4 linked regions of the Homo sapiens genome follow. The protein of the gene in region 1 purifies or fractionates together with the protein of each later gene. This does not show direct contact. Each region holds a gene or a part of one and is shown on either strand. Other genes may lie near its edges.

Evidence for each region. The genes of interacting proteins can lie anywhere in the genome.
Region 2: the proteins of ATP6V1A (region 1) and PRKAG1 fractionate together in Homo sapiens (co-fractionation; one large-scale study listed by BioGRID). This does not show direct contact.
Region 3: the proteins of ATP6V1A (region 1) and NDUFA9 fractionate together in Homo sapiens (co-fractionation; one large-scale study listed by BioGRID). This does not show direct contact.
Region 4: the proteins of ATP6V1A (region 1) and VDAC2 fractionate together in Homo sapiens (co-fractionation; 2 studies listed by BioGRID). This does not show direct contact.

What each region holds. Positions count from the first base shown.
Region 1 is NC_000003.12:113,753,535-113,757,034, forward strand, and holds part of ATP6V1A (V-type proton ATPase catalytic subunit A), read left to right. Parts: intron 1-3,500. UniProt on the Homo sapiens protein: Catalytic subunit of the V1 complex of vacuolar(H+)-ATPase (V-ATPase), a multisubunit enzyme composed of a peripheral complex (V1) that hydrolyzes ATP and a membrane integral complex (V0) that translocates protons.
Region 2 is NC_000012.12:49,005,277-49,008,776, forward strand, and holds part of PRKAG1 (5'-AMP-activated protein kinase subunit gamma-1), read right to left. Parts: intron 3,324-3,500; exon of another isoform or gene 3,150-3,323; intron 577-3,149; coding exon 467-576; intron 317-466; exon of another isoform or gene 268-316; coding exon 186-267; intron 116-185; coding exon of another isoform or gene 89-115; coding exon 30-88; intron 1-29. UniProt on the Homo sapiens protein: AMP/ATP-binding subunit of AMP-activated protein kinase (AMPK), an energy sensor protein kinase that plays a key role in regulating cellular energy metabolism.
Region 3 is NC_000012.12:4,680,114-4,683,613, reverse strand, and holds part of NDUFA9 (NADH dehydrogenase [ubiquinone] 1 alpha subcomplex subunit 9, mitochondrial precursor), read right to left. Parts: intron 1,410-3,500; coding exon 1,314-1,409; intron 1-1,313. UniProt on the Homo sapiens protein: Accessory subunit of the mitochondrial membrane respiratory chain NADH dehydrogenase (Complex I), that is believed not to be involved in catalysis. Required for proper complex I assembly.
Region 4 is NC_000010.11:75,220,796-75,224,295, forward strand, and holds part of VDAC2 (non-selective voltage-gated ion channel VDAC2), read left to right. Parts: coding exon 1-175; intron 176-1,456; coding exon 1,457-1,607; intron 1,608-3,500. UniProt on the Homo sapiens protein: Non-selective voltage-gated ion channel that mediates the transport of anions and cations through the mitochondrion outer membrane and plasma membrane.

The sequences.
Region 1 (3,500 bases):
GGAAACAAAGGGAATGCCTGTTAATAGGGGTATTGTTATGTAAATTATGGCCGAGGCATTTTATGGAATGTTGTGAAGTGATTAAATGGTAGGAGTTAAATCTACTGGTGATTAGAAAGGATTTCCAAGTACATTCTGAAAGGATTTCTATCATGTGTCTTTTTTTTTTTTTTTTTCCTGAGACAGGATCTTGCTCTGTTACCCAGATTGGAGTGTACTGGTGCTGTCTTGGCTCACTGCAACTTCCTCCTCTTAGGTTTAAGCTATCCTCCCGCCTCAGCCTCCAGAGTAGCTGGGGCTACAGGTGTGCACCACCACACCTGGCTAATTTTTTGTATATTTGGTAGAGACGGGGTTTCACCTTATTGCCCAGGCCATCATGTATCTTAAGAAAAAAAAATACAAAGTACAGAGAAACATTTGTAATGATAACTCATTTTTTATAAAACCAGTTGAAAAACACCATGAGTTTTGTATATTTTTACCTGGTTGTCACCGTTGGAAAGAGGAAATAAGCAGAAAAGGAAAGAGACAGAATATCCATAGTAACATATTTATATAAAACTACATGTTTGTACATGTCTGTGTATATGATGGATTATGGGAAACAATGGGCACTAAGATGATTTACTTTCTTCCTTACACTTTACATTATATGTTTTTATTTTTACAGTGGACATGAAGTGTTTCTGTAATTAGGAAAAACAGGCTGGGCATGGTGGCTCACGCCTGTAATCCCAGCACTTTGGGAGGCTGAGGCAGGTAGATCGCTTGAGCCCGGTGTTGGAGACCATCCTGGGCAACATGGCAAGACCCCCCTCTACCAGTAAAAACTAAAAATTAAAAAAATTATTTGGGCACGATGGCATGCACCTGTAGTCCCAGCTACTCAAGAGGCTGAGGTGGGAGGATCACTTGATCCCGGGGCATTCAAGGTTTCAGTGAACTGCGAATGTGCCACTGCACTCCAGCCTGGGCGTCAGAGCGACACCCTGTCTCAAAAGTAAGAAAAAAAAAAAGAAAAGAAAAATGTACCAAAAAATGATAGGGACTACTAGATAGGATTACAAATTTGGCATGTTATTTTTGGTATGGATAGTCAGTGCTATCGACACGCTTTCTGCCTTAGAGTGTAGAGCACATTGCACAAGTGTGGGATCTGTCACCTGACTTAATCATATGACAGAATCATAAGAAAAGTCCCTATTTGGGTTTTGGCATATAAACTGGATTACAAGATTAACTTGCCTTAAGAAAACTTTAAACAAGAACTTCTTTAAAGAAGCAAAATAAAAAGTACTTATAATTGTTTAATACTTGATTTCTGTCCTTTTAAAAGTATCTCCGTAGAATACATCATTCAAAGCCTAGACAGAAAATAGCAGATGCTTTAGAGTTGGATTTGTTGCATACTTAAAGTAGCTGTATTTTTTTCTCACATTGGTATTACTTCCCCTTTTCATTACCAGTTTTATTAATTGCATATATGTGCTTTAATGTAAGCTGTCCAAAGTTTTTTTTACAAGAGTTGGGATATATGTAAATAAAAATAATTTTAGAGTAGTATTAATATAACAAAGAGATGAAGGAAACCAGACTGTGTGAGTCAAATCCTGGCTCTGCTTCCTAGTGGTGTGACTTTGGAGGAGTTACTTGTGTCTTTTTGCATTGCATTTTTCTCAACTTTAAAATAAGGATAATAAGAGTATTTAACTTCATTGGATGTTGTGAATAATAGAAGCGATTGGAATAATAACTAGCACATAAGGACCGTATATATATTTGCCAGCTGGGTGCAGTGGCTCACACCTGTAATCCCAGCACTTTGGGAGGCCGATGCAGGCGGATTGCTTGAGCCCAGGAATTGAAGGGCAACATGGCAAAACCATGTCTGTACAAAAAAAAAAAAAAAAAAAATTAGCCAGGCGTGGTGGCACACACATCTAGTTCCCGCTATTCGGGAGGCTGAGGTGGGAGGATTGCTTGAGCCTGGGAGGCAGAGGTTGCAGTGAGCTGAGATCGTGCCACTGCAGACCCTGGGTGACAGAGCCAGACCCTGTCTCAGAAAAATATATATGTAATAATAATATGTGCTATTATTTGCTCAGTCAATTAGGTGCAATATATAATAGTTTTACTTGGCTCAGTTGTTTTAACATTCATTTACTCATCCAACAATATTTTTAATTCAGTTGAATGGGTAATACATGTACAAATATGGTAAAATTTATATATTCATACAAGTGTGTTTTCTCTCCCCTCATCCTTATTCTTTTCTTCCCCCATATATTTATCCACAAATGGTAGCACCTCTTCGTATTATTCTGGACCTTACATTTTTCGCTTGAGTATTACGTTGGAGATCTTTTCACATTGATACAGTTAAAACTGCCTCATTCTTTTTAATGATAGTTTAGTATTCAATTGTATTAATATACCCTCATCATCATATGTAACATTTATTGAGAGCTTACTCCTGATCCAAATGCTTTCTTAATACTTTAGTTTTATTAACTCATGGAAGCCTCATAACAACCTATGAGATAGGCACTATTTTTCTATATTTAACAAATGAGGAAAACTAGGCACGGGATGATTAAATGTCCAACAGTCACACAGTTTATAAGTGGTAGGGCTCAGGATTAGAGCCCAGGGAGTCACTTTCCAGAGATTGCTGCCATAATACCGCTAAACATGTAGCCTGTCATAGTATTACAAGGTATTTAACCAGCCTCCATATTAATGGACATTCCAATCTTTTGCTTAAGAAACAGTGCTATAGTTAATATTTTGTTAATAGAACATTTTGTACATCTACAATAAATTCCTAGAAATGGACTAGCCATGTCAAAGGTAAGTACAATTTGAATTTTGGTGGGCACTGCCAAATTGCTCTCCAATTTAGGGATGTTCAGAAGTTCACCTTTGTCCTTAGTAATTTGCCAAAATCTGCCATTTAGCTTGGGTCTTTGGAAGGTGTGCTTTTAACATTTCTAGCATCCCTGAATTGTGTGTGATCTACCATCATGTAATAGCTTAAGTTACTATCATATGGAATTAATGTAACAATGTCAGTATGAGAGGTGTGACCTTTGGACTTACTACTTTCAAATAACAGTAAGTATTTTAGATATAACTTGAAATACTCCTTAATGTGATTTATACATTGAAATTCTATCAATCGAAGTTTGAATAGATATTGTTGAAAAAGTAAAATGCTGTAATTGTTAATAATTGTGAAGTTGCTGATTTTATGTACCAAAGCAATTATGTAAGAGTGTTCAAATAGTTAAATAGTGAATCAGATTGCATTTGAACATTAAGAGTGTGGTAGCTAGCTAAATAGAGGAATAGCTGGGTCCTTTCTTGTGAAAAGTGAGTTTTTGATAATCCGTGAGTCCTAGTCGTAGGTAATGCAAAATGAGGTAGCGAGGAGCTTTATTTAGATGAGTTATAAAATCCACAAATTATTTTGAATATAACACACTTGGTTTCAGTGC
Region 2 (3,500 bases), on another chromosome or scaffold:
ATTTTGGTCATTGGGTTAAGGTTCCTTACCAAGGCTGATTTATAGTAGCGGTGCAGGATATTGATGAAATCAGTGATGGTCAGCATGCCTAGAGGACAAGACAGAGCCCTCAGCACTGCCTGAAGCTTGTCTCCCTGCCCAGCACAAGATGCCAATAATATTGTGTTCCAGAAACTTTTGCTTACCCACAAAACTTTGCTTCTTACTATCCCATAAAGGGGCAGCTCGTACACCGTTAGTCACCAAAGCAAAAAAAGCTTTCTTCACCTGTAGCCAAGACAGTAATAATCATAAAGGCAAATCCACAGGGGCAGGACTGTAAAAAAAGAACAGTGTTTGGGCATGTTGGGTAAAACATGAGACTAACTTCACAGAAGGATAAGGATATTACCCTTAGGATGAGATAGGATGAGAGGTATTAAACCACAGGCTCCAAAGGGGGAAGGGAAAAGAGGATTTCACCCACCTGCAGGGACGTATCAAATACAACCAATTTGGAGCTTGTGGGAATCAGGTCATAGCAGCGATGAGACTTCATGAAGGAAGTATACACGCTATTGTTGGATTCTGGGGTCTCTGCATAGGGTGGGATAGTTAGTAGCTTCCTTCCACATAAAAACTCCCAATCAAAAGAGACAGAAAACAAAATAGTGTTCTAGTATCTCAAATATTTAGAGCATTATTTTTTAATAAGACCCCTTATTTTATCTGTCTTGTTCCTATTGTTTCCACAAAACCTGGATAAACCTCTTAGAAACCATTTCATCCAACCCCTGTCTCCAGGTTAAGACTTTATCTATTGGTCCCTATAGGTAAAAGAAGTTGACTAAAACATAAAGCCTATAGTATCTCTCTTTAACATGTTATAGTCTAAAAATGTTTCTCATCTTTAATCCAAGCTTTCCCTTTCATATACTTAGCACATTTTCACTTTCCTCTTTTTTCAATGAAGTAAGCTTCTTAAAATTCTTCCAAGACTGTGCTGGGGATGGTGGCAAGCACCTGTAATCCCAGCTACTCAGGAAGTTGAGGCAGAGGATCACTTGAACCCAGGAGCTCGAGGCCAGCCTGGGCAACACAGCGAACCCCTGTCTCAATTAAAAAAAAAATTATTCTAAGACCTGCAAATGGGAAAGTCATGGTCCAAGTTGGGCCATTTCTCATTAACAATAAGTTGGAGCCCAGTGCTCAATCAACCTGGCTCAAAACACCCTGATAGTCCATTCTGGGATCACCCTGTAAATCAGAAATCATCCCACCTACTCTAGACAAATGGGAGATCCTGGCTAGTTTACCTTTTTCTATTCCTGTGATTTTAATTGCTTGCTCTAAACTAGGGAAGTAATCTCCCAAAATAATAGCTTGAATGTGCTACATACTATACTACGTGCACTTAAAAATATTACATTGAGGCTGGGCGTGGTGGCTCATGCCTGTAATCCCAGAACTTTGGGAGGCCAAGGTGGGAGGATCACCTGAGGTCGGGAGTTCAAGACCAGCCTGACCAACATGGATAAACCCTGTCTCTATTAAAAATACAAAATTAGCCGGGCATGGTGGCGCATGCCTGTAATCCCAGCTACTCGGGAGGCTGAGGCAGGAGAATTGCTTGAACCCGGGAGGCAGAGGTTGCGATGAGCCGAGATCGCAACATTGCACTCCAGCCTGGGCAACAAGAGTGAAACTCCGTGTCAAAAAAATAAATAAATAAATAAATAAATTACATTGGCTGGGCGTGGTGGCTCACACCTGTAACCCAGGACTTTGGGAGGCCAAGGTGGGTGGATCACCTGAGGTCAGAAGTTTGAGACCAGCCTGGCCAACATGGCGAAACCCCGTCTCTACTAAAAAAATATAAAAATTAGCCAGGCGTGGTGGCACGTGCCTGTAGTCCCAGCTACTCAGGGGGCTGAGGCAGGAGAATTGCTTGAACCCAGGAGGTGGAGGTTGCAGTGAGACGAGATTGTGCCTCTGCACTCCAGCCTGGGCGACAGAGTGAGACTCCGTCTCAAAAAAAAAAAAAAAAAATTACATAATTTAATCCTTACAACAAATGTGTAAGTAATGTCCTCATGTTTCAGATGAGAAAATAGGTGTAGTTAAATAAACTGCTCAAGGTCACACCATTAATAAGTGGCAAGAAAGACTCAAACAAACCCAGATCTGTTTCCAAACTTCATGCTCTTAAGTCTTTAATCAATTTGGTTTTTAATATTTATTTTTTTAACCAAAGTTATATAGACACACAGTTAAATCAGTCCAACAGTTTTACAAATTTTGTTAAGAAAAAATTGCACTCCTTGCAACCCACCTCCCTGTACTACCCTTCCCCAGAGATGAGAACATCTATCTACCTTAGTTGATTATTTTGGTACTTAATTCTATGTCCTTAAATAACATGCTTGTATTGCTAGTTTCCATTTTTTTTTTCATTTTGGGGCATTATTTATCATCTATCTACCAAAGAAGATGAGAATTTCTAGTTCTCTCTCCTACTAGGACTCCACCACAAACACGTACTTCCCATTCTCCTCATTATTCCAGGAGCTAAACCATAATGTTGGTTATATCCGTATTTCAATCTTTTTTTTTTTTTTTTTTGAGAGGGAGTCTTGCTCTGTCACCCAGGCTGAAGTGCAGTGGCACGATCTCAGGTTACTACAACCTCAGCCTTCCAGGTTCAAGCGATTCTCCTGCCTCAGCCTCGCAAGTAGCTGGGGTTACAGGTGCCCGCCACCATGCCCGGCTAAATTTTGTATTTTAGTAGAGACAGGGTTTCACCACATTGGCCAGGCTGATCTCGAACTCCTGACCTCATGTGATCTGCCCGCTTTGGCCTCCCAAAGTGCTGAGATTACAGGAATGAGCCACTGCACCCGGCCAGTATTTAAATCATTTTGACTGAATATTTATTATTCAGAGATAAGCCAAATAGTAAACTCTGATTTTTTTTTCTTCCTTCACAACTTTGTTTTACCTGGAGTTAATGTCTTGTCCTTTTGTTTAATTTTCTATGTATAATTCTTATAACTAATCCAACCCCCAAATGCTTCACCAACTATTTAAATCTCCTTTTAAGAGGTTCAAAAGCATTAGACAGTCTATCAAAATTTAAACTACCCAAAGAAATCTCCCTGGAGCCTTCTGACCTGCTCAAATCTGGGCTGGTTTGTCTGGTGTGCACTGCTGTCATCCTGGGATCTTTCTTCATCACCATCCTGGGTACCCCTTTCACGTCTGTCCTCTACTGGTGCTCCTATATCGCGTTTTTATCTTTTTTGATTACTCCCTTATTTTGGTGGAACACATCTTCCAGTAGCTTCCTGAGAAAGGGTGCATGGGAGGTATGTGTTTTTGAGACCTTGCAGCCTGTAGATATCTTTATTCTACCCTCATCCTTGGATTTATAATTCGGCTGAATAGAGAATCTGCAGGAAAGCTTGGAATGTGTTTTCCTGCAGAATGTTGAAGGCATTGCTCCATTGCCTGCTAGCTGCTGG
Region 3 (3,500 bases), on another chromosome or scaffold:
GGAGACAAAGTGAATAGTCTGAAAGGTGTAACACTCAATAAATATCGTTATCACCCTGCATTCTAGTGGTCTATTTTTCTGGTACCCCTGTTAGACCATAAGATTTTTGAGTTTTTGTTGTAACATTCTGACCATAAGATTTTTGAGTGTTTGTTGTAACCTTCTGAGTACCTAGTACATTATCTAAGACATAGTAGGCATTCAATAAACATTTGTTGAATGAATGGATGAAAACCCAAATGAAGATCAGTTTGTGGCACAATGGATGTGACAGTCTCCTTAACCAGACCACTAGGGTGTGACATGGTAAGTTCAAGATTTTATTTTATTTGGTTCAAATCAGGACAATATAAAACCTAGGACGAGAAAGGAGCTCCCATCAACAGTTACCTCAGGGCAGTAGGTTTTTCTTTTCTTTCTTTTTTTTTTTTTTGTTCCAGAGACAGGGTCTCACTATGTTGTCCAGGCTGGATTCAAACTCCTGAACTCAAGTGATCCTCCCACCTCAGCCTCCCAAGTAGCTGGGACTATAGGTGTGCACCACTGTGCGCAGTAGCAGTCACCTAGGCTGGAGTGCAGTGGCACAATCTCAGCTCACTGGAAGCCTTGAACTCCCAAGCTCAAGCAATTCTCTTGCATCACCCCACCTCCACCCCAGTAGGTGGGACTACAGGCAGATGCCACCACATCCAGCTAATTTGGTATGTTTTGTAGAGATGGGGCTTCGCTATATTGCCCAGGCTGGTCTCAAACTCCTGGGCTCAAGCAATCTGCCCTCCTTGGCCTCCCAAAGTACTGGGATTATAGGCATGAGCCACCACTCCCAGCCAAGTCAAAGATATTTAACCCACAAAGAGAAGAAGTAAACTAAGAAGCAGGGAAAGAAGAGAAGGCAACCACAAATCCAAGTCTGAATTAGCCTGACTCCTTTCCCCAATAGCATGATCAGGTTGATTTAATAATGAGCGACATGAAACACAGGGGAACCTGACTGCCCCTTACATATGTGCCTAGCAAGATATTTCTCCAAAATTAAACTCGATGGTTTTAAATTGGAGAAAGTGAAGAACTGCATCTTCACTTTTGGGAAGTGGGAAGATTCACTTTTGGGAATTGGGAAGATTTAATGTTCCAATATATTTTTTTTTAACCAACACTAATCTATTTCTGCTTCTTCTCTATGCTAATGTCATAACACTAGGAGATCTGGAGACCAGCCCTTCACACACCCTATAACCCTAAGGGAGAACATTAGGAACAAGTGTGTGGAGCTGGCTTTTTCAGAAGTCACACAAAAGGAGCACTCTACTTACCGATAGGCAAAAAGCGGCAAGGGGAATGGGAGGAACAATCTGTGAGCCACAGCAAAGATGTACTTCACCAGGTGGAAAAGGAGGTACCGACTGGGACTATAAAAAGACAATACACAGTTCTTTCAATTACACGCTTCTCACAAAGTTTCCTTTATAACAAAATAACATTTTCCTTATAAAAAAGGAAACATATATGCACTGTAGTAGATACAGAATAGCACAAAGAAAAATCACCCATAATCCCATTATGAAAGATAGTTAATATATTTGATCTATATCCTTCTCATCCCCTTACATATATACATTATTCTGCTTTTAATAAATACACAATCCATTCTATTCCGTAATGTCTTTTTCATTTAACATTACATCATAATCGTCTTTCCACATCATTATTTTATTGCATGTTTCATGACAACATATTACACTGCATGTAATCACAATTATTTTATCAATTGCCAGTTTTGAGATATTTATGCTATTAAAATTTTTTTCTTTTATAATGTTTTAATGAACATTCTTGTAATAAATATTTGTACTTATCCATGATTACGCATTTAGAATATATTTGTAGAAGTGGAACTGGGTCAATGTAGACTTTAAAATTTTAAGGCTTTTATTGAATACTTCTAAACTGCTTTTCAAAATGGTTCTATCAATTTATATAAAATGTTAAGTATATAACATTTTAGATAATTATATAAATTATAATTATATATATGTAATTATATATAAGAATGCCCCCTCCACCCGAAATGAGTTGTCATAAGAAAATAAAATTTTTGCCAATCTGCTAGGTTAAAAAAAAAAAGGTATCTCATGTTTTAATTATTATGTCTTTAATATGAGAGATCATTTCTTCACGAATTTTTGGTCATTTATACATCTATCTTTTCTTTCCTCCTGGAGTCCCTGTCTATAAAAATAATTTGTAAGAATTCTCTATATTTTAGTGATATTGTTGGAAATACCTTTTATTGTTTGTATTTTAACTTTTAGTGTTATTTACAGTGTTTTGTGCACATAAAATTTTAACTGTTTAATTTAACCAAAACTACTGATTTTCTTTATGGCTTGGATTCATAGTTAGAAAATTCCTCTGCAGTGACATAAATTTCTACATATTTTGTCTAAACCTTATAAAAAAGATTTTTTTTTTACTATAAAGTTCCTTCTGTGACGTATTTTTGTACATTATATAAGGTAAACATGTAATTATATTTTTCCCAAGATGTAAGCCAATTGCTTCAATGCTACTTACAGAATCATTTACTGTACTGCCTCTTTCCCTATACTGAAATGTCACCCTTATCACATACTATATCCTTACATATAATGGGACTGTTTCTGAACGTTCCGCTCTATTCCATTAATCTGAATAGTTCTGTACGATTTTAACCTAGCATTAATAAGTATCAGTGCTTATAATGCATTTTAATATTTCTTTACCCATTTCCTAATTCATTTGCATGCTTCATGACAGTAAATCTGTGACAACCAAGAGCTGAGTGAAGGTAATTCAGTGAGAACCTCATTATTCTGACATACTTTACTAAAAAACATGAAACTATCAGCCAGGAGAAATATCAGACAAAGGCCTTAGCAGGGTTCTTCAAATTCCAGAGGGATTTGTAAGGATCATTACAGGACATATAATACATGCTACGCCAAGAGCAACTTGAATTTTTACGATGACAAACAAAACTGGTATCATGGGTTAACTAACTCTACATAATAGGTTTCCTTTTCAGCTGTTCTGAAGCACTTTGTGTTCCATCAAGTGCAACCGGAACACTAGTTTAAGTGCCCTTCCTCACAGCCAAAGGTACATTGAAGCCCGCATCCTCCCAGCTTAGATTTCAAGGCTCAGCATCACAGTTATTCCTCTGCAAATATCCTCAGCAAAATCTTGTCTCCCAGGCCCCTACCCACTATACTTGCTAAGCAAAACTCACTCTGGTTGACCCAAACATGTGCCTTCTCTGAGCCTGAAACCCCAGAAGGACAAAACTGTAGACGAAATACAATTGAACTGATTGACTTCACCTTATTTTTTTATCAGTAATTTCCAATGGAACACTCAGTTCTGCTTGGCAATCCCACATGTTCTCCTAGGAAATGCTCTTTCCTGTTCTCCCAGGGCATACTTTCTATCTTCTGTCCTCAAATTTTCCACACACTTTTCTG
Region 4 (3,500 bases), on another chromosome or scaffold:
GTTGTGATGTTGACTTTGATTTTGCTGGACCTGCAATCCATGGTTCAGCTGTCTTTGGTTATGAGGGCTGGCTTGCTGGCTACCAGATGACCTTTGACAGTGCCAAATCAAAGCTGACAAGGAATAACTTTGCAGTGGGCTACAGGACTGGGGACTTCCAGCTACACACTAATGTGTAAGTATTTCTTTCATAGGATACTGTGATGTGGGCCCTCAGAGGATGATTTTGATGTCTGTCATCTTATTGATCTGGGTGCACCCTAAAGGATTTCTCATAACATTTAAAAACAAAATCATTCTTGGTCATTTCTAGGGTGCCCCTTGAAAGTTTATAGTAGAAGACTGTTAGTCTGACCTTTGGTGCTGAGAGAGTAAATGTTCATTTTATATGGGGTTTAATGTGCTTTGTATTTTTACAAGAGGCATTATATATTGGCAGACTGCTACCAGTACATTCATTTTACTTAATTATTTTGATGTGTGAGATGCTGACTTGATAGGATTGCCTAAAATGTATGGTGTTTTGTGGTTGGGTTTTTTTTTCTTTTTCTTTTTTCTTTCTTTTTTTGTTTTGGTTCAGACAGAGTCTTGCTCTTTTGCGATCTCGGCTCACTCCAACATCCGCCTCCCGGGTTCAAACAATTCTCCTGCCTCAACCTCCCAAGTAGCTGGGACTACAGGCGTGTGCCACCATGCCTGGCTAATTTTTGTATTTTTGGTAGAGACGGGGTTTCACCATGCTGGCAAGGCTGGTCTGGAACTCCTGACCTCGTGATCTGCCAAAGTGCTGGGATTACAGGCGTGAGCCACTGTGCCCGGCTATTGTTGTTTTTTTGTTTGTTTGTTTTTAATTATTTTTGTAGAGATGGGGTCTTGCTATGTTGCCCAGGCTTGTCTCAAACTCCTGGCCTCAAGCGATCCTCCCGCCTCAGCCTTCCAAAGTGTTGGGATTATAGGCGTGAGCCACTGCATCCAGCCTGGTGTTTTTACCTAGCCCAAACTAGATAGATACATAGAAAGTACTTAAAATGTTTTTCTTTCCATTGTAAAAATTCATTGGTAAATAACAGAAGCACAAAGAAGAAAACCTACGTTTCTTACAATCATGCCAGCTAGGTATATAATCTTTGTTAATGTTGTGGTTCACCTTTTTATATGTGTGTGTATATATACTTATATATAAAATACGTAACCAAAAGGCTGTTTGAGAACCTCTTGCATGTTTAATACAGTGTGATAATTCCACTGAATGGATATTCTGTGGTTCATTTTACCAATCCCTGTATGGGTATGGGTTGGGGAAAAAAACCTGTTAAAACTTGCAAGTTTTCAGTGGAACACTAAAGACCCACTTGAGCTGTGGTTTTTTATTTAAATGTAATGCTACAAATCAGCCTGTGCCTTAGACATTATTACATTGTCTATTCTAGATCTACTAATTTAAAATATCTTATAGCAATGATGGGACAGAATTTGGAGGATCAATTTATCAGAAAGTTTGTGAAGATCTTGACACTTCAGTAAACCTTGCTTGGACATCAGGTACCAACTGCACTCGTTTTGGCATTGCAGCTAAATATCAGTTGGATCCCACTGCTTCCATTTCTGTGAGTACTTTTGTGGACTTAGAATGGGGGTTTTGGTTGTGGGAATGAGTCTTTGGGTATACTGAATTATGTTGAAAATTTGAACTGATTTCACACAGTCCCCAGTTTACAGATAGATTAGTTTTAGATTTTGAAATGCGCTTTTTTGATGGATACAGTGTTAGACGTTTTATTTCCAGGCCAGGCTGGTGGAGTTTGTTTAACCTCAAAAGCTGCCGAGTTAATGTTGATGATAACCTTGAGCCATAGGCCTGTCTAAGTCCAGGTATAGCTGGTGTTTGGTCCCTGAGTGGTTCTTACTGTGTCAGAAATAATAGTGCTTTTTTAAGGCTCTCTGTTGTCGAGGCTGGACTGCAGTGGCACAATCACGACTCCCGGCACCTTGACATCCTGGGTTCAACCTCAGCCTCCTACTATTCCCAACTAATTTTTTGATGTTTTTTTGTAGAGATGGGATCTCCATATGTTGCCCATCCTAGGCTCAAGCTATCATCCTGTCTCAGCCTCCCAAAGGAGGCTGTTGGGATTATAGGCATGAGCCACTGCACCTGGCTAGTATTTTAATCATCACTTTGTCTTTTTTTTTTTTTTTTCTTTTTTGAGATGGAGTCTCTGTCGCCCGGGCTGGGGTGCAGTAGTGCGATCTTGGCTCACTGCAACCTCCGCCTCCTGGGTTCAAGCAGCTCTTCTGCCTCAGCCTCCTGAGTAGCTGAGATTACAGGTGCCCGCCACCACACCTGGCTAATTTTTTTGTATTTTTTAGTAAAGATGGGATTTGTTGGCCAGACTGGTCTCAAACTCCTGACCCCAAGTGATCCACCCGCCTCAGCCTCCCAAAGTGCTGGGATTACAGGCATGAGACACCACAGCTGGCCGCCTTCTCCATTTCTAATTGCACTACAGCAATAAAAACCTCAAGATTCATACAGTACACTATTCTGTTACTTACATTGATGTTCTTGGATGTCTGTGGCATTTTAACAGATTTAATGTAAGTGGAAGAAGCTTCTCTCAGCTACTAGGAGTTCATAGTTAAAATGGGAAGGCAGCTTGGGACCCCTGTGTCATTTAATGACTCCTGGGAATTAGTTTGGAAATGTACCTAGCCTTTCCCACTTCAGTAATGTTAGCTGCCACTCCAATTCAGCAGTACCCAGAAGCATTGCTTAATGCTCCTTGTGATATTAGGAAGTATATATTTGGTTCTCCTTCCCTCTCCTGGCATAGAACTCCTAAAAAATCCTTGGAATCCCGAAAGTATTAAGTATCTTTTTGTATGCTAATGAGTTTTGACTGGTGGCTGGCCACCTTTAGGTAGCTTCGGGCTGGAGGCTAGTCAGTGGAGAGACCAAGGTGTGATTAGAGGGGGTGGGGAGAGGGGCTGTAGGTTTAATTGTTCACCAATGGCTAGTGGTTTAATCAGTCATGCCTGTATAATGAAGCCTCATGAAAACCCACAAGGACAGAGGTCAGTGAGCTAGGTAGCTGAGGTTACTGGAAGGTGGCATGTCTGGAGAGGGCATTGAAGCTGTGTCCCTTCCTATGTTTTGCACTGTACATCTCTTCATCTGTATCCTTTGTAATATCCTTTATTAAAACTGGTAAATGTAAATAAAGTGTTTCTTGAGTTCTGTGACCTGCTCTAGGAGATTAATTGAACCCAAGAAGGGGCTTGTGGGAACCTCTGTTTAGAGGTGCCAGGTCAGAAGCAGAGTTAAAACAACCTGGGGCTTGCAGTTGGCATCTGAAGTGGGAGGAGGGCAGTCTTGTGGGACTAAGCCCTTAACCTGTGGCATCTGATGTCTCCAGGTAGAATTAGAGGACATTTAGCCAGTGTCTGCTGCAGAAATTATTGCTTGCTTGGTGTGTGAGGAAAGCCCTCACACATGTGGT